4 linked regions of the Homo sapiens genome follow. The protein of the gene in region 3 interacts with the protein of the main gene of each other region in a biochemical or structural test. Each region holds a gene or a part of one and is shown on either strand. Other genes may lie near its edges. The genes, in order: RGS14, RGL4, RAP1A and RALGDS.

Region 1 (5,209 bases), on a different chromosome or scaffold from region 3:
CACCTCTCCCCGCCCTCTCTCTCACCTCCACACCATGACAGGTCTCACTCTGTCATCCAGGCTGGAGTGCGGTGGCACGATCTCGGCTCACTGCAACCTTCGCCTTCCGGGCTCAAGTGATCCTCTTCCACCTGTCTCCCAAGTAGCTGGGACCACAGGCATGCACCACCACACCCAGGTAATTTTTTGTATTTTTGGTAGAGACAGAGTTTTGACATGTTGCCCAGACTGGTCTCAAACTCCTGAGCTCAAGCGATCCACCCCCACCCCCCTTGGTCTCCCAAAGTGCTGGGATTACAGGTGTGAGCCACCTCACCCAGCTCCCATATTCTTAAAAAAAAAAATACTATAAGATATTCACACACCACCCCATATACTGTGCAGTCAGGAAGAGAGGTTCTGAAAACAGGAAGTCAGGAGGCACATCCTGAGGTCCCCAAGAGTTTCCTGGCACTGACCTTGGTGACAGAAGTAGTGTGTTTTGAGGGTGGGGGAAGCCACAGGACAGTCTGGCACACAAGGAAGACAACTCATGGCAGAATAATAATAATTATTATAATAACAGTATCATACATCAAGGACAAACCCAGCTGCCCCAAGCCTACTGCAAAATCTGTATGTACAGTATAGTCTATGTGGGTGGGGTACAGGGCTGCCTGCCTGCACCCTCAAGGCCTTACTCATACCAGCTTCCTGAGGAGGGGCCGGCCCCTCCTCTTGCCCCTGTTGAAGCTTGGCACAGGCTGGGGAGGCTGGCACTGCCAACGCCATCCCTCCATGTTGGGCAAGCCTGTTCCAAGGGGCTGGACTCACCTCCCCCATTGTGGCCTGGCTGCAAGGGATTGGGGGTGAGCTTGTTGAGGGACAAGGCGGTGGCAGCTGTGGGGTGTGTCTCATCTGAGTCCCCTTTCCACCCCTACCGGCTCTTCCTGCGGGCCTGCCCATGGCAGGAAGGGGCCAGGGACACTCATGGCACAGACAGGGCATGCAGAGCGGACCCATGGCATGCTCGGCCCGCCGGGTGCCATGCAGCTGTCCTGGACTGTTGGGTAGCTGTCAGAGGGCTGAGTCGGTGGTGGAGTTCAAGGATCCCCCGATGGGCTGGGCTGCTGATTTGGTCTGTGGTGGGGTCTCCTCGGAGCTGGGCCCTTGGGCGGGCAGCTGCAGAAATTCTGGAAGTACCAGGTCCTCTTTCCTCAGAAGGCCCCTCTGGTCGTGGGCCCCGCTGCTCTGCACCCGGTTCAGCAGCTCCACCAGGCCTGGAGGCAAGCCACAGCATGAGGGTCCCCCCAGCAGACCTGCCTATATGCCAGCCCACGATAGTCCCACTGCCTTACTGTGGCCACTGCCTCCCTGGCCCCAGCACCAATGGCCTGCGGCCCCCTGTTCCAGCCCCTTTGACCCCCCAACCCCCATCCTTCCTGTTCCACGCCCAGTGGCACCCAGCCCCCTGCCTTAGCTCAAGGCTCTCTGATGCCACCCTGAATGGTCCCCAACCCCACTGCCCTAGTCTTTCTGATCCCCAGCTCATCCACCATGTACCTTCGATGTCACAGGTCTGCCGCTTTCCAGTGGCACTACTGGGCACCTTCACCAGAGAACTGGGGGACGCTGGAGGGGGATGGGTGGCCTTATCCTGAGTTCTAGGTGGGCAGCCCTGCGAGAATTTGGGGTCAGAGCCAAAATCGGGAGGGGAGAAGCAGAGGGTGGAAGAGGCCACTCGCCTTTCGCTCACCTGGCTGCGGCAGGGAGATTTGTCACGGGCTTTGGAGATCTTCACACCTGCAGCAGAGAGGGCCACAGTTAGTGTTTGCCTCCCACCTGGACCCCCTTCCTCCTGGGCCACAGCTGTTCCAGATCAAGCCCCGAGGCCAGCGTCCCCTACCTGGAAGAGTGTCCAAAACCAGTCTCTGGGCCGCCACCGAGCTCACTAGCTTCCCCAGATCCAGAGGCTGTTTCTCGCCTGGCTGTGGGGAGAGGTCAGCAGCCCGCGGTACAGGCCTCCGCCCGGCCCCGGCCCCGGCCCCGGCCCCGGCCCCGGCCCCGGCCCCGGCCCCGGCCCGGCCCCGCCCCGCCCCGCCCCGCGGCCCGGAAGCTCACCCGGTGCAGCACCACCTCTAGCGGGCTCAAGCCGTGCTTCTCCAGAATGGGCTGCAGCGCCTCCTGCAGCCGCTTGGTGGGCTTGGCTGAGATTCGTACCACGCGCTCCAGCGCCGTCAGCTCCAGCCTGCGAGGAACCCTCGGGCAGCAGAGGGCCGGAGGGCCGGCCCCCCGCCAAACCCTTCCCAGGACAAACGCGAGGGGGTGGAGCTTGAACTGCAGAAGGTGGGACTGGCTTGTAGGGGGCGGGGTTTGTCCCAGGGGCGGGGCTAGCACGAGGGGCGGGGCCTGGGGAGCCAGGTAGCTAGAACAGGGCCTGAAGGGAGCGTCAGGACCTGGGACCCAGACTTGGGGGCAGGACACTCACTCGAAGGTGATCCTGTTTTCCAGCCGCACTTCCTGATCCGCCAGCACGGTGCAGTCCTGATCCAGGACCAGGGCCTTCTGTGGATGCCAGGCAGGGTCTAAGAGTCCCTCCCCCAACCCCCAGCCATCCCTGTGGGTCTGAGAACAACTTCACGCCCTCCCATGGCCACCACTGGGCTTCCTAGAGGAAGGGATGGAGGGTGGAAGAGCTGTAGGGGAGCAAATGGGTTAAGGTACCAAGCTGGAGTCCAAGCCCAGGAAAGCCAAGGCCAGGGAGAAAAGTGGCAAGAATGCTGGACATTCTTGGGAAAGGACAGAAATTACGAGAAACGTAGCTGCTGGCATGAAATGATAAGGGGCAGGCCTAGATCCGGGATCTCTGGCCTACTCTTTCTGTGCCAGGACAGGCTCTGCCTCCAGGACAGCTGTCTCGTGTCCCTCAGGTGTGTGAAATCCGACCAGACCAGCTGGAAGCATTTCCTCCCTCACCACCCACCTTTGACCAACCACCCTGGCCTGGTCCCATTTTTGACATTTGTCCACTTCTCTCCATTCCCCGCTACTAAGGACACTTCTTGTTTCCTCATTCAAAAAGGGCCCACCCTCAAAACTGCTGTGAAACCAGAGGATGTGAAGCATCTGGCACAATGCCTGGCACACAGTAGGTACATAAACAGTAACTCTCGTGATGACCACCTTCAGAGGCCCCACTGCCTGCTCCAGCCTGATGTGGGGGTTGGGGGCAGCATCTCCCAGGCAGTAGGCTTATGCTGTGCTGCAGGAGCAGGTGGAGTGTGGGTGAGGAAGTTATATTTAGCATGTATGAAAGCCCATCTGGGCTGCTGGCAGCCGCCCTAGCGGCCTGAGAAGAGTGGGCAAAATGCCTCCCACTACTGCCCTCGCACCCCTGCACTCCAGGCCCCTGAACATGCCCCGCAAGTACCCACCTGCAGGCCTTTGCCTAAGCTGTTCCCTCTGCCTGGAATATCCTCCCCCACAGCTCTGCCCATCCACATCTACTGCTGCTTCTTCCATGAAGCCTTCCGGACACCAGCCAGAAATGCCTACCCTCTCCCAAGAGACCTTCTCTGGAGTTTTCACTCTTCCTCCTCCCTGATCACTCCCTGCTTGGCTTACTTTCAGCCTGTGGGCCAGGAGGACAGCCCCAGATCTAGGTTCCTCTCCCCCACACACCTGGCAAGGCCTTAGGACTTGTCTACTAGGTAAATGAAATCCCGATGGCCCCCTGGAAGGTAGCATTCTTCCTTGAGATTCCCCTGACTGAATGGTTTCCTTTAAAGCCAGTTTTCCCCTAGGTCTTCTTTAAAGTTTAAGCTAGTTTGCACCTAAAGGAAAAAGTTCATTGGTTAGGTGCACTTGGGTGCCCCTAGAGGCTAAGGAGGTGAGGGCACCCCACGGATGGCCATTTCCAGGATGGGTCTGTGGGGATGGGAGTCTGGACTCTGGGAATGATGAGGGGCAAACCCCAGCTCCAACAGTGGTTCTCTCCAGTTTTACCTCCCTAAGGTCACCACAATAGGATGATGGATGAAGGTGGAAACCTGGAAGGACATGAGGTGGGGGGTGGGTGGATGTCTGAGTGAGTGAAAGTTGGTGCTGAGGGTGCTTTGGAGTTGGGTTTAGAACTTGAATTGGGGTTGGAGCCATGACTGAGCAGAGACAGAAATGGAGTTGGGGTCAGGATCAGGAAGGAGGTTAGAGTTGGAGCCAGGTCACGTTCCCACCTGTTCATTGCCCACCAGGTAGACCTTGATGTCAGGTAGAGAGAGGCCTCGTTTCTCACAGATCCCTGCCAGCATGTCTCGGATGGTGAGGCCAGGTCTGGCCAGGGCCAAGGAGGCTGTGCCATCGGGCAGGTACACACAGCAGTACTTCCCTGGCCGGCTTTCACTTTCACCCTCCGTGCTCCCAAGGCTCTTCCGGTGGCTCTGATTCATGGCAGGAGTGGGGGAGATTATGTGTACACATGCAAGGGCATGCACACAGGTACACAGAGATAGGTAAGCTTGCTGGGGCTCAAGCATGCACACGCACTCCCAAGGCAGGCAAAGATACGTCCTCCTGCAGGAACACATGTATGCACACCCAGGCATATGGGCACCTAGAGACGGGTCCACCCGCTGATTCCCACACACGTGCTGTGTATACACACCTGGGTGCTGCACATGTGCACACATTTGCCAACTGAGGATGTGTACCCATGACATATATGGGGACCAATGTAGTGAGACAAGTAAGGAGGCTGAAGGGTTGGCTACGCAGAGCAAGCTGGGAGACGCAGTAAGGACAGCAACTTGGAATGAGGGCCACCACGTAAATGGGCCTGAGTAGTGACTCTAGCCCATAGAGCATCTTGTCTTCCCCAACAGTCGGCTCACCTCAGATTTGCTGCTGACGAAGGCTAGGAAGCCAAGGTCCAGGCTGGCGGAGGAGTTGAGGGAGCCCTGAGACTCTCGGCGCAAGGCGGCGTTTGCAGTCCCGCCCAGCTCTAGTGAAGAGGGAGCGATGAACGCGAACAGCCCCCCGCCCTCACCCATCCTCTGCGGAAGCCTGTTCCCCACTGGTGGGCCTTGTTTGGAGCCATCCTGCAGGGGCCCAGGTGTAAATCCCTGGGAGCGACACCACCGTTGGAGATTTCCAAACGTCTGAGGTCTAGCCCAAGACCCGAACCACCCAGGGGAGTGTGGTGGTCACTGGGACCTGGGTTTCAATTTTCACAGAC
Region 2 (7,130 bases), on a different chromosome or scaffold from region 3:
ACTCTCCGCACTCCTCGCCACTGATGTGGGCAGCTGATCTCTCCGGTTTGCTGGGCTCTCACCCTCTGCCCAATGGCACCAAGTTAACTTCTTCGCATGCTTTATTTTCTGTGATTAAAAAGGGAAACAATTCTCACTAACGCCATTTCTCAGAGGAGAAAACAGGCACAGGGATGTTCTATGACTTCCTCACGATCACCAAGCTACAAGGGGGAGCTGGGCTTTGAATGGAGGTCTACCCATGCTCCTAAAGTTGAGGCGTCCTCCAAGGAAAGGACAGCACCTATAAAAGCTCAATGAATGGGGCGGCAGTGTCACCACTAAGCCCGACCACGCTGCTACTCTGATATCCAACTTCCAGCCTCCAGAACAGGGAGAAATACAGTTCTGTTTTTGATGAGCTCCCCAGGCCGTTACAGCTCTTTCTTTGCTGTAACAGCCTGAACTAGCCCAGAAGTGCTATTCCATCATCTGTGTCATATTCCATCATTCAGAAGGGAGTCACTAACCCCTCAGTGCTGTCTCTGTGGACGCTGCCCACCCTAGGCTGAGATGAGGCACAGGGTCTGGGTCTAAATAAAATGGGAAGGCACTGGAAGGTGCAATGTCATAGGAGGAGGATGTCTGAATTTCATTTAATCTCAACCTCTACTGGTGCAGCATGAAAGATGAGGCCCAGAGCAAAAGTGTCTTTTCCCGAGATCACACTGTGGACCCCAGGCCCACTGGAGTTGCATTAGACGTTACCTCTCACCCCTTCTTGTATTTGTTCCATTTCTAAGTGTGTGCAATATCCACAGGGAACACCACACCATGAGTTTTTAAATATTTATCTCAAACATAACCTCATGAGTTCCCTAGGAAAGAGATGCTAGCATAACCCCCATTGTGCATGCTGGGGAGACCCCAAAACACCAAAGGAGTTCTCTAGGGTCTCACAACTGCTAAAATAAAGGCTGTTTGACCCAGCACTGTCTCCTCAAACCTGGGACCCTGGTTATATCCAGGTCTTCCCAAGGTGCTGAAGGGGCACACTTTTTCATAATGGTGACTACGTAAGGAGTTGACGGGGGAGGGTGAGCGGTCAGAAGCCCAGAGGGGCCTTTGAGTAGGACTTATGGAAAGGAGGAGCTTACAGGATGGAACCTACAAGATGTGACCTCACTTCCTTGCCGACAGACCCCCAACAGAACTTACAATTCTGGTAACTAGGCACCCACATTCTAGAGACAGCCCCATTTCCAGCTCACTTCGTAGGCGATGCTCGAGAGAACAACATGTTCTCCTGCTGTATCCCGACATGCTGCCGACCTCCTCGTCGCACAAGAGGCCAAAATGAGAGTCTTTCCCGAGAATATAGACATTGGTTCAACCCTCACCCTCGACGCCTCTGGCCCTTTGCCAGAAGGCACCCACAGGTAACACAGGGCCCAGGGCAGGCCCATCCAGGCTAGGCCTCAGCTGTGCCCATCAGGGCAGCCTCAGGCCCCTCCCCACTTGTTTGGGGGAAACAGGAGATGAGGGGCCCTCCCTGGATAGGAGCAGGTAGGTTGTCAGGTGTTTGGAGCCTGGTAGGTATGTCAGGTTCACAGCCCAGGCAGTGCCTGGCAGGATGGGAAGGTGAGTGTCAAGGACACAGTTTGTCTGCTCAGATCTGAATCCCAAGTCCTCAAGCTGTCATCTGCCGGAGACCTCAGGCTTCTCTGGCTGGAGGTCTATGCAGATGCTCCTATGTGCCAAATCCTGTTGGGGAAGGGGGTGCCAGGGATGAGTTCTAATGGGGGTGTCCCACTGTGGGGTCAGCCAGACAGGCCACTGACACCTCTTGGCCCGGCTCTCGGGCACTCTCTTTGCAGAGCTCCACACAACAGACCAAACAAGAGCTGTTGGATGGATTCAATTTCTCCATATTCTTCAAAGGGCACGTGCACCACACCACCAACCACGTCCAGTGCCGGTCTGCGGTGAGATTGGGCACAGAAGGGTCTCCACAGACAGGACTTGTGAAAACCAAGGTGGGCCCAGGACTCAGACACGAATATGGGGACTCCCTAAGCTCCATCCTAGGGCGTTCCCACTTGAGTGACCCACTGTCCTCTCCCAAAGGAATCTGGCTGCCATTAGTCCCCAGTGGCAACTTGGTTACAGGCAAAGTCCCTTTCACCTATCAGAGGAAGACCAGAGAAAATCCTTCTGTTTTCACTTTAGGCTATGCCAGGAGTATCTCGGCATGTTGCTTTAAGAATTGAGTACAATGGTAACATTGCAGCAAAATACTCACACTGTTATCATTTTAACTCCCCACCCTAAGTGGATCTCCGGCAACAGGCAGGCAGCTCCGCTGCCCTGCCAGACCTCCTCCAGGACTTAAAATCCAACACTTTTGCACAAACAAGGGGTGGGGGTGGGGGGGGTGCATTGATTACAACAAAAGAAGGTGAAGCGACTCTATGCATTAGTCTTTAAAGTGTCATCTCACAGAACTCATCCCTGCAGCCCCATCAGGCAGGAGTTGTACCCTCGCATGTCATTGTAACATTCCTTAAGGGAGGCCATTTTCCACAGCGGGTCAGCCTCTCAGTGCTGGTGGAGCCTGTCATGATAAAATTCCCTTTCGAGGCAGCCTTTCTACAAGGAGCATAATCCTATGCGTGTCCTAATAGGCTGGAGCAGTTTGCCAGGGCTGCCATAACACGGCACCCTGACTGAAGGGCTTAACCACAGAAATCTGGTTCCTCACAATTCTGGAGACTGGAAGTCCAACGTCAAACTGTCAGCCTGGGGTGGTTTCTCTGGGCCTCTCTCCTTGCCTTGGAGATGGCGGACTTCTATCTCAGTCAGCACAGGGTCTTCTCTTGAACTTCTCTGTGCGCTGACCCCCTCTCCTTGTAAGAACCCCAGGCATGTTAAATTAGGGGCCACCCTAATGAACTCACTTCACCTGAATTACCTCTTGGAGTACTCTGTGTCCAGACACAGTCACATTCTGAGTCTCTGGGGTTGAGAATAGAAACAGTTACATTTGGGGAAGGGGACACAATTCAACCCATAAAATAAACAAATCCCCTGCAGCAGACAGACACCCAGGAAAGGGATATCTGGGTGAAAGGATATGCAGATATCAACTTTCAACAGCTCTAGCTAGTTGACTTTCCAAAAGGGCTCCAGCTGGTCACACGGTCACCAGCAGCCTCTGAAGGTAGCTGCTTCTCTGAACGCAGCCTCCCCTGAATACTAACACGCTTTTAACTTTTCGCCAACCTGCTGTCTGTGTGGCAGAGAAAATCCTTGTTTCATTTCCACTTTCAAACATACATTTGCGTAACCTTTCACGGGTTCAATACCTGCCTGCGTTTTCCCCAAGTCGCCTCGCAGATCCTGGGCCTTGGGACGCGCTTCCTCCCACCCTGGAGTCTTCCGGCATTTTCCCCTTGGCCAGGGCTGGGATGGCCGTAGCTGTTTCTCCAGACTCACGTTCATGTTAAAGGAACAAAAACAATCATATACCTTTAAGTCAAAGAGTTCTTCTAGAGCGTATTGTCCTGTGTGCTGTTGCTGAAATGAGGAGGGGATGAGGCCTCCCCAGGCCTTGAGGACTTGCAGGGATGATGCTCTTCATGCAGGTTGCTGACACAGAGGGTGCTGTTGCCCCACAGCTGACAAACACCGGGACGATGCCTTGAAGGCAGGAATCGTTTTATCATTCTCCATCCTCACATGCAATGTTACTTTGAAAGCCTAGAACGCTTTTCACCATGGGCACCCAGGTTCTCCATATGCACAAGTCCCTGAAGGGTTGGTGCTTCTTGGTGTGAGTTCCAGATCCCGATCCTCTGGTGGTCCATGGTGTTACCACTGACTCCCATGTCCCTCCTTGTCCCCCTAGTATGAAAATGAGATCTGCAGGATGCTAACTTTCCAGCCCGGCACTGGGGAGAAGCTGTTGGGAGTCCCTGGTTCCAGCCTTTCTAACTAAACCCATCTCCTCCTATGCCACCTGCCTGGGCCCCTCCTGGGACTTTATCACTGTGCCACACTTTTTGGAACTACTGGTTAGAAGGTGAGTGTCCATCCCCCTCCAAGACACAGAGGTGCCTCTGTCCCCTACTGGCTCTGTCTTGAAGATGCACCTCTCGGAGCCTCGGTTGGCTCCTCTGGAACAGGGAGTAGTGAGAAGACGAACCTCACAGGGTTCTTGTAGGGACTCAATGATCTAAGACACAGCAAACAAAGGGGTCCCTAGAGCCTAAAACTCTGGAAAATCTGCTGGGGGTGCTGTGATTCATGTTTGTTACTTTTCTCTTCCCCCTCACTTGAAGCAGCTCTCAGCATTCTGCCTCAATGGCCTGTATCACTCACTGTTTGGAAAAACACATAGAAACCAAGTCTGCGATGGCACTGGTAAAGGATGTCTGAGATTCCTTCTGGCTGGTCTTTCTCCTTGACACAGACAGAAGAGGGGTCCCTTGGTGCTGAAAAAGGAGCCACAGGCCCACTCAGACATCTGGAGAGGCTCACTGGGGTTCTCCAAAGGTTGGGGTTCACTCATTCAACACATACATTCAAAACACCTCATTTGTGCATCGCTCTTCTTGGGGCTTGGCATAATTTCATAAACAAAGCAGATGACAATCCCCCGGCCTTGATTCTACTCAGAGTCAGGCACTCACAGTAGACAGAATAAACAAGTCATATCTACAGAATGTTACAGGTGAGACCCTCATGGCCTCCTCTACGTATGGTGGCATCCTCCCAGATTCTGACTAGAATGACGCAGCCCAGCAACAAATATAAACTGGGTGGATTTAGGGTTCTGAAGGGCCTTTTCACCCACAAAACATGGGGGAAAATATGTGGACTCTGGCTGGGGAGAGACTAAAGGAGCTCTGGGGCTCATACTTCTTATAATTCCCACGAGAAGGCTGACATCTGGGGACTTCCCCCACAAGAGGCAAATAGTGAGTTCTGTAAATGGAGACTTAGGTCCCCTGCAAAGCAGAGGGGAGGCTGGGGTCACAGCTGGCCACTGAGAGACCCATCCCCCTCAGCACCGTGGCTTCCCAGCTCTCCCTGTCCTCCTCCCCCCGACATCTGCCCCTTCCCTCCTAACCCCAGGACCAGGGGACCCAGATCTGGAGCTTTGATGAGGAAGCTGCTCACAAATCTGCCTGCAGCTGCAGTCTTGAGTGCCCAGGTGTACAGTGCTGTGCTCCAGGGCCTTTGGGAAGAGAATGTCTGTGGGACGCCAGGGCGCACGAGGGTCTGTACAGCCCTGCTGTATGGCCAGGTCTGCCCCTTCCAGGACAGCACTGATGGCTTACGGTAGGGTGGGGCTGTCCTCCACACTGGCAGCAACAGGCCAGGGACCCAGAACCACGCAGGGGTGCCCTGGAGGGTTGTGTGGGAGAAGGCCAGGCCTCTGACTCAGCTGTCTACTCCATCACCAGCACCATCACCTCCATTTTGTTCAACTGGCCCCCCGAAAACACTTCAGTTTACTATCAGCCCCCGCAACGGTCATCTTTCCGGATAAAGCTGGCCTTCAGGAACCTCTCCTGGCCTGGACTGGGCTTGGAGGACCATCAGGAAATTGTCCTAGGCCAGTTGGTGCTTCCGGAGCCCAACGAGGCCAAGCCAGATGGTGAGGGGGCTTGCAGTCTGCAAGACTTTCCGGGGGTGGTGTTTTGGGGCTACAATTCCCTTAAATTCCACCCGGTCATTTCTGTGCTTGGAAAACCCAGTGAAAAATGACTGGTGTGGTGACCTTTTCTCCTTTTCCAGATCCTGCTCCACGTCCTGGGCAACACGCATTAACAATGCCGGCCCTGGAGCCAGCACCACCACTGCTGGCGGACCTGGGGCCTGCTCTGGAGCCAGAGTCACCTGCAGCCCTGGGTCCACCAGGATATCTACATTCAGCACCAGGGCCAGCACCAGCACCAGGGGAAGGGCCCCCTCCAGGGACAGTGCTGGAGCCACAGTCAGCCCCAGAGTCCTCCTGTCCCTGTCGTGGGTCTGTAAAGAACCAACCCAGTGAGGAGCTGCCTGACATGACGACCTTCCCTCCCAGGCTGCTGGCAGAGCAGCTGACCCTCATGGATGCGGTGAGCAGCTGAGCTTTGCAGGCTGTGTCTCTGGCACCAGCTGTCTCAGACCAGCCTCTCCCTGAGGAGCAGCCAATGCCCTCGGTCCAATTTCAGCCCCACTTCTTACCAACCGTGGGATCTGGATGAGTTTCCTCACCCACAAGCCTTCCCTGTCTGCATGTGGACGGCAGAGATGGGACATCACCAGCGCCAGCTGCACAGAGTGACTGTGCAGACTGAGTGACAGGAGATGGACAGAAAGCAGGGCAGGGCAGGTGCTCACTGTGGGGCAGGCAGGGCCATGGGTCACTCACCCAGCTGCTCAGGAGCCTCACTACCCTCAGCACTTATTAGGTACCTGATGCATACTGGATTCTATGGTAGACACCCAAACAGAGCCCATAGTTGCAGCTGCCACAAGGAAAGTGCACCGGTACGGAGAGGAGTAGTAGAGGGCTGATTGGGATGGGAGGAAGACGAGGCCTCAGGATGGGCAGGCCTGAGCCACCTTCTAGTTCTTAGAGTGTGGATGGCCTGGGAGAAAATGTCACTCTCTCTTCCCACCCTTGTTGGGTTCTAGGCCATGATGCATTCAGGTCCCTCGGGGGCAGAAAACCAAACCCAGGGACTCCCACAAGTCTGGAGCCCATTTTAAAGCTTTCTGAGCTCCAGCTTGGTTCCTGCCAGAGACCGTGGATGACTGTGAGCTCAGTCCCTGCCTGGGACTGTGGGTGACTCTGAGCTGCAGTGTGCTGTGTCCGTGACACTCTCCTCCTCCCCCAAAGGAGCTGTTCAAGAAGGTGGTGCTCCACGAATGCTTGGGCTGCATCTGGGGCCAAGGACATCTGAAGGGGAATGAGCACATGGCACCCACAGTTCGTGCCACCATCGCACACTTCAACAGGCTCACCAACTGCATCACCACCTCCTGCCTCGGGGACCACAGCATGAGGGCCCGGGACAGGGCCAGGGTGGTGGAGCACTGGATCAAGGTGGCCAGGGTAAGCTATGGTTGGGCCTGGGGATTCCCTCTTTAAAAATGGG
Region 3 (7,698 bases):
TCCTGTAGTTAAATGTTGAAGAGAGGTAAGCTAACATCCAAAATTTAAATGTGAGCTATTGAAAAATTCAACTTAACAATCTGAAAGTTATCTTTTTATGACTGACATTATTTTTTAAATGTTAAACAATAATGTCCAATGCAAGTATACAAGCGACATTACCATGGAATGTTTGTCAACAACTGTGGCTGTCAAAATCAGTATAACCTAGTCTTAAGAGTATAAGGTAGGGTGAGAGGATAGAAACAGTGGCAGGGAAGGGTAGTAAGGGAAGACCTGAGACTGGTGCAGAGACCTGAAGAAGTGAGGGATATATACTGCCTTGGGGAAAAAGGTTACAGGCAGAGAGGACATTAAGTGCAGACACCTCAGTGTATTTGACCTTTTTGGGATGTAGGAGGCCAGTGTGGCTGGAGTACAGTAAGCAAGAGGAAAAGTAAAGGGGCTTGAGATTAGGGAAATAGCTGGGCAGCTGTAAGGCTTGTAGGCCATGGTAAGAACTTTGGATTCTACTGTGAATGAGATGGGAAAACACTGGAGGGTTTTGAATAGAAGAGAGACTTGTTCTGAAGTTTGTGAGCATCATTGTAGCTGCTGTGTGGAAATCAACTTGGGGTGGAGGGGCAAGAGTGGAAGCTGGAAGATCAATTAGGAGATTAATAATCTTCACTTCTAACCTTTTTCAGTGATTGCAAAATTGTGTATCTTTCTGCTGTTGGGCAAGTAGTTTCCTTTTCTTCCCATCTATTAAAATAATTAAATGAACATGTGCATATACAACATTTTCTTTCTTTTGGAATATTTCCTTGGGATTCATTTTCAGAAGGACTACAGGAACAACGTATATGAATATACCTGTCTTCTGGGGTATATTAAGTGTAGATACTGTCCTTCTTGAAGCCATACAAAAAGTGAACAAAGGCTTTTGAGCTGTTTTAATATGGAACTGTGTAACACTGAGGGATTCCATCCAGTTCACTTCTAAGACATAAGTTCATGGTTGGCCTCAGAGGGTCCCTAAAACTAATGCAAAATTTTGTGAATAAATGCCTATTAACTTTATTCTGGGGAGAGAGTTTATATATTTCATCATATTCTCAAAGGTGTCAGTGGCCTAGAAAAGGTTAAGAATTACTATCTTACAAACTGGAAATGGACTGCAGTATCCTAATATAGGGTACCTCTCAAAAGGACAGAAGATTTAATAACTAGACTCATCTTTGTAATCATTCAATTCATTCAACAAATACTTAACACGTATGATCCTCAATACCTAACAGCTAATCGTATCTGAAGTAGGCCATAATTTAAAACACCAAGAAAACTAGACAGGATTCACTGAAATATCACGCTACAAAAGAATATCGAACTATATGATTTCAAAACAACAATGTTATAGGAAAGCATAATAAAGACAGAAAGTCTGGGGCCTAATTTAATGCTTATTATGTCAAAGTATCACAGAAATAAATTACATCACAAGGAAAGAAAAACTACACATAGGCATGTCCACCCCCACACATTCTGACAGGAAACCCAAAGAAAGTTTCCAAATCCTGTTTCCAGCAGCATCTCTTCTGAGACGGCCCTTCATGCTTTTGAAGGTAGGAGCCCCAAGTTAAATCTAAGAGCTGATACTTTATTCTTACTGTAATCAAAACAAAAACATCATCCGCCACCTAAGAAGAGTGGCTGGCTACCTGTAGGGCTGTGGCTCATTGACCTTCTGCTCTATTATTCTATTTCATTTCTTATACCTCCTCCCTTCAAAGAAGTAACAAAATGATTTTCCCTCCCAAAACAGAATGCATTACTCCTCAATGGCAGTTCTTTTTCCAAGAGGTCAAAGGTTCCCTAAACTCTGGTTCTCAGCCCTAAGAGGAGATCCCATTTTGTAGGCACAAATGTCTTCCTCTCATCTTCTCCCCGTAGCAGTAAATTACACAACTCGGCTGAAGACACCGTCCTTAACTTCCTGATTAAGGGGGCAAGAGATACTCTTACCAAGCCGCTAGTTTGAAGGATAACAAGAATCACACCGTGACCTCTTCCCTAACAAAATTCAGGGAAGAAGCAGAGACCCATGAAAAGTAACACTGAAAAGGCGAACACATGGTAAGCTACGGAAGACATGAGGGTAAAGAAGGCGGGAAAGGGGCTGGAAGGTGGAGTGGGATGTAGATGTCAGCCCTATTAACTGGGGGAATAAAGGAAGGAAAGGGAGACCCTGAACCCTGACAGAAGTGAGCCCGGAGACAGCAATGCTCCAGTCTACCCGCACTCCTACAGCAGAGGACAGAGAATTCACCCAACCCTCCAACCCCGTTCCCCGTGTGTCCCTCCCCCCCGCCCCCGCGGGCCCAAAAGGGAGAGCTGGGTTTGAAGGAAGCTCTGACCCTAGACAGGGGACATGCAAGAGGAGGAAGGCAGCGATGTCCAACCTTCTACTTCTCTCAGGCAGTGAGGTACGAGGGCACCGTGTCTGGGGAGACGGCGAGGGAAATGGGCTTGTGCTATGACACCTCGGGGAGCTGAAGGGTGGGGGACACAATGTCCTCTTTCTCTCCCACAGCCGGCCGGGGCCCCTCCCGACGGTCTCCCGCAGGCCTACAGTCGACCGGGTCGGTCCGCGGGCGTGGTTGGCTCTGGCCCTGGCGGCGGCCGGGCCTCCCAGATCTCCGGCCCCTCCCGCCGGCCAGGCCCCCGGGCCGCCGCCCCGACACCGATGGAACGCGGAGGAGGAAGGGGGAGCCAGGCGACTGACCGGCGACATGAGCCGCCTCACCCTCGGCTCGGCCGACCCGCGCCCCCCGCTCCCTCTGGGGCCGTCTGGAGCTCCCCGCCCCTTACTCACCCCCCCGGTCCGGCGCCTCCTCCACCTCCTCCACCTCCTCCACCTCCTCCTCCTCCTCCTCCCTCCTCTCGGCCGTGGCTCCTGCTCCGGCTCTGCGCGGCGACAGCAGCGGGAGCGGCGGCGGCAGGGGCCTCGGGAGCGGCGGCGGCGCCTCCTCCAGAACGCGCACGCACGCACCACGCAGGCCCCGCCCCCTGGTTCTGCCCCGCCCCTCCAAGTTGGCGATGGCTGGGCTTCGGCCCCGCCTTCCCCACGGCGTTCCGGAGTCCGCTTAAAGGAGCCGCGCACACTGGAGCCGGGAAAGCCTGGAGCTACCGGGAAGGGGCGGGGAGTTTTAGCTTTGCGTAGGGCGGGATGGGAGGTGGGTAAGACCGGAAAAAAGATGAGGAAGGGTCCAAAGATTCAAGAAGAGAATTTGGAGGGAACTCAATCATTCGACAAGCCCTAATTGAGCACCTGTTAGGTTCCAGGCGCTGTTCTAACTAAGCGCAGAGGTTTAAAGTCATAGACAGGCAAAGACCCTCTTGCAGCTTGCATGCTGGTGGAGTGAGAGAGGGGAGACAGACAACAAACAAGTGACAAAAATTGCAGGTAGTGATAAGTGGTGTGGAGAAAAATAAAGCAGAGGATAGGGTGACTTTACACCTGGTGAGATACTGCCTCTCAAAGAAGACCTTTGAGCGCATACACACGGGATGAAGGAATAAGTCTTGCAAACACGCGGGCCTGGAGGAGGAATAGCCTTTCCAAGCTGAGAGAAAATCAGCCATAAACCCAGAGGTGGGGATACGCCTGCCATGTTGCAGAAACAGTGAAAGGCCGGCATGGCTGAGCAGCGTCAGCCAGCCCGAGAGCAGTACCAGCTAGGCTTGGCCAGATCCAGTGAAGCCTGTGGGCCATTATAACAGGAACGGGAAACCATGAGAGAAGGGTGAGCCGAGGAATGACCGCATCTGATTCATGTTGTTAAAAGTTAGTCTTGCTGATGTGTGTAAAATACACAATGGAGAAGCACAGATGTCCTTGGGATACCAGTAAGGTAGCTTGGACTAACTAGCCTGGCAGCCACGGACAGGATGAGAAGAAGGCTATTTTATTTTATTTTATTTTATTTAGATACATTTTGATTGGAATGGATTTGGATTTGGGGCATAGTGTGTGAAAGAACAAAAAGAAATCAAGAGTTGATTCTTAGGTTCGGGCCTGATGACTGAGTTAATGGCGGTGCCACTTAATGAAATGGAGGAGCAGATTTGGGGATGGGGAAATCAAGAGTCTTTTCTTACACATGTTATGTTTAAGGTGTCTGTTATACATCCAAATGGAGATATTGAATAAACAATCGATATATGAGTCTAGAGAGATACATTTGGGATTCATTAGCAAATAGATACTTTTTAAGTCTTAAGTCTAGTTAGGATCACATGGGGAGGGGAGATAGCTGAAGGAAAGGACCAAGAGGCACTCCAACACTTGAAGGTTAAGTAGAAAAGGAGGCGCTACCAGTCAGGGCAGGAGAAACACCAAGAGAAGGTGAAGCGTTGGAAAACAAGATAATTGTTTCAGGAAGGAGAGAGTGAAGAGTCTTATCAGATACTGCTGAAATTAGTAAGATAAGGACTGAGAATTTGAACACTGGATGTGGCCTGATGAAGTTGCTGATGACCTTGATGAAAACAGTTTCAGTGGAGTCATAGGGGAGAAAGTCTGATTAGGGTATGTTAATAGGATGGGAGGTGAGGAAGAGAAAGTGTTCTAAACAGCTCTTGAGAGGCTTTGCTTTGAAGGAGAAAAGGGCAGTAGCCAGAGAGGTACTTGAGATCAAGGGAGGATATTTTAAGATGAGAAATGCTTTTTCTCATTTTAGTATGCTGGAATGATTTTTTTTTTTTTGAGGCGGAGTCTTGCTCTGTTGCTAGGCTGGAGTGCAGTGGTGTGATCTCCGCTCACTGCAACCTCCAACTCCCTGGTTCGAGCGATTCTCCTGTCTCAGCCTCCAAAGCAGCTGGGATTACAGTCATGTGCCACCACACCTGGCTAATTTTGTGTTTTTATTAGAGACGGGGTTTCTCCACGTTGGCCAGGCTGGTCTCGAATTCCCAACCTCAGGTGATCCACCCGCCTCGGCCTCCCAAAGTGTTGGGATTACAGGTGTGAGCCACTGCGCCCAGCTGGAATGATTCTTTAGAGAGGTAAAATTGGGCCAGGCGTGGTGGCTCACACCTGTAATCCCAGCACTTTGGGAGGCCAAGGCGGGTGGATCACGAGGTCAGGAGATCGAGACCATCCTGGCTAACACGGTGAAACCCCATCTCTACTAAAAATACAAAAAAAATTAGCCAGGCGTGGTGGCAGGCGCCTGTAGTCCCAGCTACTCAGGAGGCTGAGGCAGGAGAATGGCATGAACCTGGAAGGCGGAACTTGCAGTGAGCCGAGATCGCGCCACTGCACTCCAGCCTGGGCAACAGAGCGAGACTCTGTAAGAGAGGTAAAATTGATGACACAGAAGGCAAGAGGAGACAACTGGAGAAAGAGTGTCCTCAAATAGGTGAGAAGCAATTGGATCTAGCACAGAAGTGAAAGGGTTGGCCTAGGATAGGAGTAAGGGAATGCATTCACACACTGTTTCTGGAGAGAAGGTAGAGTGTCTGGGTGCAGAAGCAGATAGATTAGACAGTACATTTGGTTGTGGCACGCTCAGGCCCCTGTAGAGCAGAGGCGGCAGGTAGGAGCTGAAATGTAGCCCTTGTTTTGCCCACAAAGCCACGTGCCCTGGTGGGGTCACATCAGCCTGGAGGAAGGGGTACTTTTCTGATTGCTCCACCAGGAGAGGTGGTGCATGTTAGCATCCTGCATATAACACACACACATGCGCAAACACACACACATGCGCATACACACACATGCATACCCACACACACACGTATGGACCTTTTCCCAGTTTCCACTGAGTGCCATATGTACTGGCTGCCTCACTGGGATTGATGAGGTAAGATCTGTTCTCTATGCAATGAAAAGCTGTTGGCTATTAAAGGAGATAGAAGAAGGTGAGAAATAATCTCCTTGAAGAGTGGAAAAGTGACTAGAGAAGCTTAGCATGGACAGTGCTGAGGGCCCTCTTGAGTTGATGATCATACATTAAAGTGAGACCACTCAGCAAGGCCGTGTGATTCTCCTCCAGCCACACTCCATTGCTTGGGGGTTGGAGGAGAATTGTATTTGACCAGGTCTGAGTTTTGCTGGGGAAAGCCTATGAGAGGGGTAGGAGTATTATGTAAGGGAGTGATTATAGTGATAGACCTTGGAATTTAAGCTGGGAGGGAAGACAGGGCAAGTAAAAAGTGGTAGAGTCAATGGTTTGCTGTGGTCCCTGTGAGAAGTAGTTTGAGAGGAAGTAATCAAACAAGTGAGGCCAAGGGGACTTTCCAAAAGTTGAGCATGGGGAAGGGTGAGTAAGGCGGTTAGGGGACAGGAAGCACAAAGCATCTGTGAGAAAAAGGTTCAAGCTGGCTCCAAGGAGCTAAGGAAACAGCAAAGCCCTTGGGCTTCTGTCCTCATCACGGTATATGTGAACCATTGGTTTGGAGAGGTTGAGGAACTGGATTGCCCACTCATAATCTTCAGGGAGCTGCACAAACAGGAGAAACTGAGTGCAGGAGGAGATAAACCAATTAAATCCTCCCAGGGCTCCTTTACAAGCTTTGGGAGAACCCAATGGGCACTTTGCTTTCCCTGCCCTTTCCTTTCACCAGGGATATCTGATGATTTGGGTAGACACTTTATCTGGCCTAGTATTTGACAGAAACTAAACACCTTTCTTCCTAAATCCAGCTCCTCCTCTTCCTGACTTCCTCTTTTCTGTTCATGGCACTACCTTTCTCAGTCACTCAGCTGCCAAACCGAAGCCTCCTTTAATCCATCTTCCTCATTCTATGCCTAATTAGTCCCTAAAGCATAGTGAGCTGCACTGTTCAATAAACATTGCACTGTGATGGAAATGTTCTTTATCTGCATAGTCCAAAACAGGAGTTACATATGGCTATTGAGCACTTTAAATGCAGCTAATGCAACTGAGGAAGTAAATTTTTTTTTTTTTTTTTTTTTTGAGACAGAGTCTCACTCTGTCACCAGGCTGGAGTGCAGTGGCACGGTCTTGGCTCACTGCAACCTCCACCTCCCAGGTTCAAGCGATTCTCCTGCTTCAGCCTCCCGAGTAGCTGGGACTACAGGCACAGGCCACCACGGCCAGCTAATTTTTTTATTTTTAGTAGAGGCGGGGTTTCACCATGTTGGCCAGGATGGTCTCAATCTCCTGACCTCATGATCTGCCTGCCTCAGCCTCCCAAAGTGCTGGGATTACAGGCGTGAGCCACCACGCCTGGCCTGAATTTTAAATCCTATTTAATTTTAATTAAAGTTGCATTTAAAGAGCCTTAATTAGGAGCTGCTATATTGGACTGCACAGGTATAAATACTATACTTTCTACACAATGGCCCTTCCAGCTGCCCCCACCTCTCTAGCTCTATTGCCACGACCCTAGGTCAGGTATTGGTTAACCTAGGTCGAGACTTTTGCTGTGATCTCCTGTTTGGTCTCCTGCTTGGTTGCCTTCCCTTCAGTCCGTCTTGTGTTCTTGCCAAAACCATCTTCCTGAAGCATTGTCCAGATCATGACTCCACCCTATTTTAAAAACTATCAGTAGTTCCCCATCAAATTTAGTACAAACTGCTCAATCTGGCACTTGCCCAATTGTGTATCTCCATCCCACTTTTCTAGCCTTACCTTTCACTATACCCTTACATGTATATCAAACTACTTGCTGTAACTCCTACTAACTTTTTAC
Region 4 (7,036 bases), on a different chromosome or scaffold from region 3:
AATAGCTGGGATTAAAGGTGCCTGGCACCATGCCTGGCTAATTTTTTTTATTTTTAGTAGAGATGGGGTTTCACCATGTTAGCCAGGATGGTCTCGATCTCCTGACCTCATGATCCACCTGCCTTGGCCTCCCAAAGTGCTGGGATTACAGGCATGAGCCACCACGCCTGGCCACAAATGTTACTTTTAAAGACAGCTAAATTTCAGAAATTCTTGCTATGCCTTGTGAAAGTACCTCCAAACTCTAGTCCCAGGAGTTCTGAGGGCTGTCTCAGCACATTTCCCAGTTTAATGGTGCCAAAAGGAACATCTGCTGTATGAAAGGTAAACTTTTGTGTTTCCTTCAGTGTGCTGAGAAGAGTGGCTGGCTTTTCCTGTGCATAAAATAACTGGATAACCCTGCAAGGGTCCTTACTTAAACACGGAATGTGAGAGTCTCTATCTCATTTTAATTAAGACAGGTAATGAAAGAACAAAACTGTAATGACCAGGGTATAGTAGAAACAGGATTTTAATATAATATTCAAGTCTAGCATTTGCTATTTACAACAAATAAATATTGCCCCTCCCCAATCAGTAAACAAACATTTTTTTTTTCTTTTTGCTTTTTATACAAATATTCAATCACCCCACCCCCACCCCAAATCCTCCTTCCTCACTAACCCCCGTCTTGCATGGTCTCGTAAAGCCCAGGACGCAGTGGTGAATGGCACTTGCAGTGGCATGAGATTCAACATCGATGGGACTCAGCTGGGACTGTCCTCACTCACCGGGTGCAGAGTCTGGTCCATGAAGAGGGTTTCTCTCTCTGCTCCCAGGGGAGGGCTGGGGTAAGCGGTGGGTGAGACTCCCTCACTCTCAGTTGGCCCTGATGATGGAATCTTTGGTGCAGCCTGAGAAAGGCTAGAGTGGTGGGAGGGGCCGGGACCCCTGCGAAGGTCACAGGCCAGTGCCTGTGGGCATGAGAGAACTGCAGTGGTCACAGTGGGTGCTCTGGGGTGCCCATGGGCACAGGTGGCAGTGACCCACACCTGGGAAGGTGTCAGGGAAGTGTACAGAGGTGGCGCCCGGGGGCAGGCAGGGCACCATGCCATGCCCGTTGGCACTGCTCCTTGGCAAAAGTCAGCTAGTCCTCTGGTTCCAGAGAGCAGAAGGCACCTAAGGCAGCGAGTGGTCCACGGGAGGCCAGGTCAGCCTGACCAATGGCAGGCGTCAATCCCAGCAGCGGGAGAGGTTCAGGATGAAACTGGAGTCTGGGGTACCCTGGGCTGGCAGGTGGGAGGAAGGCGCCCAGCTGGCCTGGGCCACTCTGGTCCATAAGTGCTTGGCTACCAGCCAGCCAGACCCTGGGAGGATGCCCTCAGAAGATGCCCTTGGCAATCTTGAGTCCTTTCTGCTTCATGCGAGGGAGGGTGGAGCTGGCTCCGTGCTTGACCTTCACTCCCTTGGTGAAGGTCCGCTTCTTGAGGACAAAGTCATAGTTGGCGGTAGAGTTCATGGCATAGAAGACGTTGGCGTTTTCAGGGATCTTCAGCTCTGGTGGGGAGGGGCAGAGGGGTGATCAGGGATGCTCCTGGGGGCCCTGCAGGATACCCCTACCGCTTGAGAGCCCATACAAGGACTGTCTTGAGCCACAGACCTCAGATCCCCTCCAATACAGCTCCAGAACTCCAAGGACCCCTCTCAATGACTCCTGCCTGAGGACAGACTCTGCTGAGGTCCTCACAAAACCTGATGACTCTTGTTTAAACAGGGACTGACTCCAGAACCCCCCGGCTTGGCCTGAGCTGGCAGAGGGTCACCCCGTCCTGCCCATACTGCAGTGCTGGCTGCCCACCTGGAACAGGCTTTCTAGAATCCAGGTCACCTCCCAGAATCCTGCCCTACTCAGGACAAGGGATCCAAGGACCAGGAAAGGACAGGCCTGCCCCAGGGCTCTGGCGCCCGTTCCAGGGAGGCCTGTACTCCTTGAACCCTGGCACCCGGCAAGCACTTCCTTTTGGCTCCATTTCCCACCATCTCCTCTGGCCCACAGCCTGCTATAAACCAGAGCTGGGCTCGATTTGTGCTCCTGCCGACATCGTGTGGCTTTTCGTCATCTTTAACCTCTCTAGGCCTCAGTCTTCCTTTTCTGTAAGATGGGGGTCCCGCCTACCCTGCCCACCTAACCGAAATGGTGCAAGAAGCTGCCAGAGGATTTAGACTGTAACTTCTAGGGATCACAGGAGTCATTGCTTACTGTCTGGGCTAATGGTGGGAGGTGGTGTTCAGCTCACTGGAAAGAAAACAGCGATGATAGTATTTATAGTTAACTTTTATGGTGCACATAGATGCTTTATATATACATGCATATATATACACACACATATACATGCATATATATACACACACATATACATGCATATATATACACATATATACATACATATACACATATATACATACATATAGATTTTTACATATATGATGAACACACTGGCTACTTTCATTTCCATTTGGGGGATGAGAAGACAAGCACAGAGGGCTTAAGGAGCTTGCCCAGCGTCTCCAGGCCCAGGATACCCCACTCTGAGCCTGCACTGGTTCTTGACACTTTCCCAGTTTCTAGAATACTGAGTTGGCCTCCTAGTAGCCTGTTCTGCTTTTAGAATCACACACTCATGGATTTTAACACTTGACACTTTGGTCCACAGCTGTCACCATTCTTTGTAGAGCACATGTTTTCTTGTCTTAGCCAGAAAGAGTCCCTTCCAGTGGGCCACGTGGCTAACCTGTCCCAGTGAAAAATGCCTTTTCTCTTTGCTCCTCACTGATGTGAGCTTTGAACTGCCTGTTCACGCCTAGGGAAGGGCACACACTGGGGAGGTCCAGTGGTTGCTGGGGACAGCAAGCAGACAATGGGGGCAGCCAGGGCTGCCCTGTCCACAGTGTCTACCCACACTCTGCTGGTGAATTTTCTGGGGCCAAAGGCTTCCAACCTGGGGCTGGGGAGTGGTGTGGACCTGCCCCCTCTGCCATCGCCCTCTGGTCTTCTGACTTACTCCGGTCATCTGAGAGAATCTGCAGCAGCTCATAGTCCTCCGGCTCCTCCTCCTCCAGGTTGTGTTTGTCCATGGCCTTGCGGATTACAGCCGGAGCCTTATCTTGGCTGGTCACCTGCATCGCGGCGGGGGATGGACCATCAGGGAAAAGACCCTGGAGCGGCTCCCCCAGAGTGCAGTGGCCAAGGACCCTCTGGAGTCCCCTCAGCACCAAGCACAGGCACTCACAGCCTCTGGCCAGGTGCTGGGTCCGGAGAGGGCCTTGTCACATTCTCCTACTCCCCAAGTGAGGCCTCCGTCCTTCTGTTCCCCATGTGAGGCCTCCATGGAATGAGGAGGGGTCTGTCCCAGCAGTGCCTACCCTGCTTCTCCTGTAAGAGACTGTTCCCTCCTCCCACACTTCCTTGAGAAGCACTTGCCCCTCCAGGATAACAGCATCACTGAGCCTGGGGAACAGACAGTCCCTAGTCCAAGCCCTGGAGGTAAGAAAGGAGGGGCCGGCCAGGATGCTCAGTGTGGTCAGCATAGGCCAGGCCCCTGCTACCTTGACCCTGAGGGCCAGAGCACAGGCGGAACTCGGACATAGGGCCACAGGTGACTGCTTAATGACAACCATGCTAGCTCCTGGCAATGAGGGGTCAGGAGCGTGTGTGAATAATGGGGCACCTGACCCAGGGCTGGGGTACAGAGGGTGGGGGTTACAAATGGTTCATCTGTCGCAGGACACCTGGAGGATGAAGAAAGAGCCCCCAGGCAAACCCATTCTGTGAGCAATTCCCATCTGCTGTCTCCAAATCCTGTCTAGACTCTGACCCTGCTGGCCCCTTCCAGGGCTCCCAGCCTGGTTGCCACAGCGGCCTCCTAACCAACACCCCTGCGGCTCTGGTACCAGCCCACACCAGACAGAGAAGCCAGCCATCATTGCTCCTGTCTTCCTCCCCGAGAAAGTCGAGGTCCTGGCAGGGCTCAGGGCCTATGTGGCCAGGCCCTGGATACTTCCCTGACCTCACCTCCCCTACAGCACCGCCCCTTCAGCTCCTGGGGGCTTTGCACGGCTGCTCCTTTCCTCCCCCTCTGCCCTCAGGCCAGCCTTGTCCCTGATCACTACCTTCTTCATTTCTGTACCTGGCTGACATCTGTCCTTCCCCGCCAACTACAAGGTAGACCCCGGGAGGGCAGGGATGGTGCACTGTGTTCAGGGTGCATTTGCCGCCAGTGGAGGGAGGCACCCAGGCCACCCCCGCCGGCTTACCAGGATGCTCTTGTACATGTTGCCATTGTCCACGTCCAGGCTGACGCGGATGATACAGCAGTCGCCCACCTGCTGGTTGTAGAGCGGCAGCGCGGAGCTGGAGTTGCAGAGCCCTGAGACAGAGCGCTTGTGGGTGCGTGTGGCAGCCACGGGCGTGGTGGAGGCTGAGGAGGACGAGGTGCTGCTGGAGGCTGAGCTGATGCCGGAGGTCTCCGGGGATGACTGTGAGGCTGATTCCCAGAACTGAGGGAGACGGTAAGATCAGCAGATCCCACTGCCCTGTGGGGGCACCCCAGGCCAGCTGCCAGATGGGGAACCTTCTAGAAGCTGTGTTCAGGATCCAGGGCTTCCTGGCCCCATGCATGGATTTGGAGTGGGGAGATGGGAAAGGATATTGGGGAGAAGGGCAGGCAGTCACCTTCTTTTCCTGGCCATCAGGAGACTCCGGGACGAAGCTGATGTTGATCTCCTCCACGTCGGAGCTAGAGGAGCCGGCCGAGTGCACGCTGAGCGCGTCAGCGATGTCCCCGCTGCTGAGGTAGGGGCCACACCTGAGCTGGTCACAGGACTTGGAGTGGGAGCTGCCACTGGTACTGAGCTCAGTGCTGGGGGCCTGGCGGCTGGGTGAAGAGTTGGCTTAGTTAAGGGGGCTCCCCAAGGACACATCCCAACCCCACAGCCCCTGCACCCTGCGCCCAAGGACTGTGCAAAGTGCTGGGACAGTTGCCAGTACTCCATTCACCACAGCCATCTGGGAGAGCATTTAGTATCACCCCATTTCACAGAGGAGGAAACTGAGGCCCAAAAAGGTGAGGGGACTCATCCCAGTCTCAGGGCCAGTCAGCAGCAGGGTAGGATTCCAGGGCCAGCCTCCCTGACTCCCTGAGCCCAGGCTCAGCCCTGAAGCTTCTGAGCCCCAAGGCAGCTGCCCCTACCACCCTTGGCCAGGCCCTTACTCGCTCCAGCGCTTGACAATGGCTGTGTTCTTCTTGGTCCTGAGGGTGTTGCTGGCTGACTCGGATGGGGGCTCCAGCTCGCACGACAGGTTGTAGCTATGAGCAGAGGGGCAGTGGTGTGACAACCAGGGGCCATGCTCCGGCCTTCCCCCAGCACCTGCCCAGAAGCTGGAGTCGGGGTGCCCCGGCCATCCTCAGGCAACAGGGGCTGAGGCTGACCATGGGTCATAGCTGCTGGCCCTCTGGAGCTGGCCCCCTAGGACAGCCTGCCCCCACTGTCCCCATTTGCTGCCCCGGCCTCACCTCTCAGTCTCGCTGAGCCGCTCCACGGCCCGGAACCAGGCCCCAAATTGCTCATCTGGCGCGATGCTGTAGTTGTTGCAGGCCGACTGCAGCAGCTTGATCTGGGCGATCACCTCGAACTCCTGGGGCCAGAGGGAAGCACAGGGCGGTGACAAGGCCCCCCGGGCAGCACAGGGGCCAGTCTCTGGGTCTTTGTTCTTGGGGTCCCTTCCTCCCCTCTACTCCCATCCAGGCCTTCCTGTTCTCAAAGTTGGGCTCAGCCACTCCCCAGGAGGTGGTCCTGGATTATAACCTCCTACCCTCACCCTCCAGTGGGAGGGGACCCCCTTCTCTCTGTGTCCAAATGTCCCATGTCCCATGAATCTAAGGAGAGGGTAGGAGTTGAAATGTCCTACCCTGGTGGGTCTGTTTTCCACCCCTCCCCAAGTCAGGGCTGCCTGCAGCTGCTTACCTTCCTCCTCTTCTCAAAGTTGATGAGTCTGCCCTGGAAGGTGGACACCCAATGGCCGTCAGAAAGTGACCCCTTGACCATTACAGTCTCCCCACCTCATGCTGCACTATCAAGAGTGCCCACCAGGGGGCAGGGCACGCACACCCCTGGATTGAAGCCGGTGCTGGGCACCAGGGCAAGGGGACATGCGGGCAGAGGCTTGGGGACTTCTTGTCCAGCACTCTCGGAGGACAATGGACTGAGGCCTTGGGTGAGAAGGCCCTGCTCAGCCACCACGTGCCGCCTGACCGCTGAGGGCCTGGCTTCCCTCTGTGCTCAGGGTCACTGCCTGAGGGATGGGCTGTGTCCCACTCAGCCAAACCCTGCTGCAGCTCTGTGTTTGGGCAGCCCTGGGGTGTCACCAGCAGGGCACTGAGCTGTTTACTCATTGCTGGGACAGGTGTGGCAGCCCAGCCCCCAGGGCTCAGGGAAGGTCTCTCCTCCCGGGCCCTACTCCAGCCCCGCCCGGCACACTCACATACAGATAGTCCTTCATGGCAGTGTCCAGCATCACCAGGTCGGTGAGGAACGTGCCCAGGTAGGGAACGGTGCCCTGGATGATGCCCTGTGACATTGGGGTAGGAGGATGAGCAAGGCCCCTCCCCTGAAGGCTTTCTCAGCCCCCAGCCCCAACTGGTCTCACTTGGAACAGCTGGGGGACCTCTGGGGGCCTCCTGGGGCCCACTGTCTCCCTGGACCCCAGACTCCCTCTAGCCATCTCCCTGGCTGGCATCTGGGAAATGCCAGGTTCCCAAGTCGTGTGGCCCCTGGCCCTCCCCAGCCCCACACCCGCCTGAGCCGGCTCTGCCAGGCCTGTCCTTTCGTGGCTGCAGCTGGTCTTCCCAGATACCAGCTGATCCAGGTGTGGCTCTGCTAGGGTCCAGAGGAGGCTACCTCTAATGGGGCCCATAGGCACCGTGGCTAGAGAGGAAAGGGCCCTCCTCCCTACCCCCAGGCCAGCCCCCTGCCCCTCCGCGGCCTTGGGCACTCTCAC

The links.
Region 1: the proteins of RAP1A (region 3) and RGS14 form a complex in vitro, tested with the Homo sapiens proteins (one study listed by BioGRID).
Region 2: the proteins of RAP1A (region 3) and RGL4 form a complex in vitro, tested with the Homo sapiens proteins (one study listed by BioGRID).
Region 4: the proteins of RAP1A (region 3) and RALGDS form a complex in vitro, tested with the Homo sapiens proteins (one study listed by BioGRID).

What each region holds. Positions count from the first base shown.
Region 1 is NC_000005.10:177,367,923-177,373,131, reverse strand, and holds the end of RGS14 (regulator of G-protein signaling 14), read right to left. Parts: intron 4,976-5,209; coding exon 4,866-4,975; intron 4,416-4,865; coding exon 4,212-4,415; intron 2,545-4,211; coding exon of another isoform or gene 2,542-2,544; coding exon 2,468-2,541; intron 2,228-2,467; coding exon 2,101-2,227; intron 1,968-2,100; coding exon 1,886-1,967; intron 1,783-1,885; coding exon 1,736-1,782; intron 1,658-1,735; coding exon 1,543-1,657; intron 1,260-1,542; coding exon 1,057-1,259; 3' UTR 536-1,056; downstream 1-535.
Region 2 is NC_000022.11:23,686,888-23,694,017, forward strand, and holds the start of RGL4 (ral-GDS-related protein), read left to right. Parts: upstream 1-4,125; 5' UTR 4,126-5,143; coding exon 5,144-5,322; intron 5,323-5,447; coding exon 5,448-5,641; intron 5,642-5,781; coding exon 5,782-6,104; intron 6,105-6,871; coding exon 6,872-7,087; intron 7,088-7,130.
Region 3 is NC_000001.11:111,615,091-111,622,788, reverse strand, and holds the start of RAP1A (ras-related protein Rap-1A precursor), read right to left. Parts: upstream 3,001-7,698; 5' UTR 2,855-3,000; exon of another isoform or gene 2,391-2,854; intron 1-2,390. UniProt on the Homo sapiens protein: Counteracts the mitogenic function of Ras, at least partly because it can interact with Ras GAPs and RAF in a competitive manner. Together with ITGB1BP1, regulates KRIT1 localization to microtubules and membranes.
Region 4 is NC_000009.12:133,097,227-133,104,262, forward strand, and holds the end of RALGDS (ral guanine nucleotide dissociation stimulator), read right to left. Parts: intron 6,608-7,036; coding exon 6,521-6,607; intron 6,037-6,520; coding exon 6,004-6,036; intron 5,675-6,003; coding exon 5,553-5,674; intron 5,346-5,552; coding exon 5,250-5,345; intron 4,914-5,249; coding exon 4,712-4,913; intron 4,537-4,711; coding exon 4,294-4,536; intron 3,157-4,293; coding exon 3,042-3,156; intron 1,537-3,041; coding exon 1,361-1,536; 3' UTR 496-1,360; downstream 1-495. UniProt on the Homo sapiens protein: Functions as a guanine nucleotide exchange factor (GEF) activating either RalA or RalB GTPases and plays an important role in intracellular transport. Interacts and acts as an effector molecule for R-Ras, H-Ras, K-Ras, and Rap.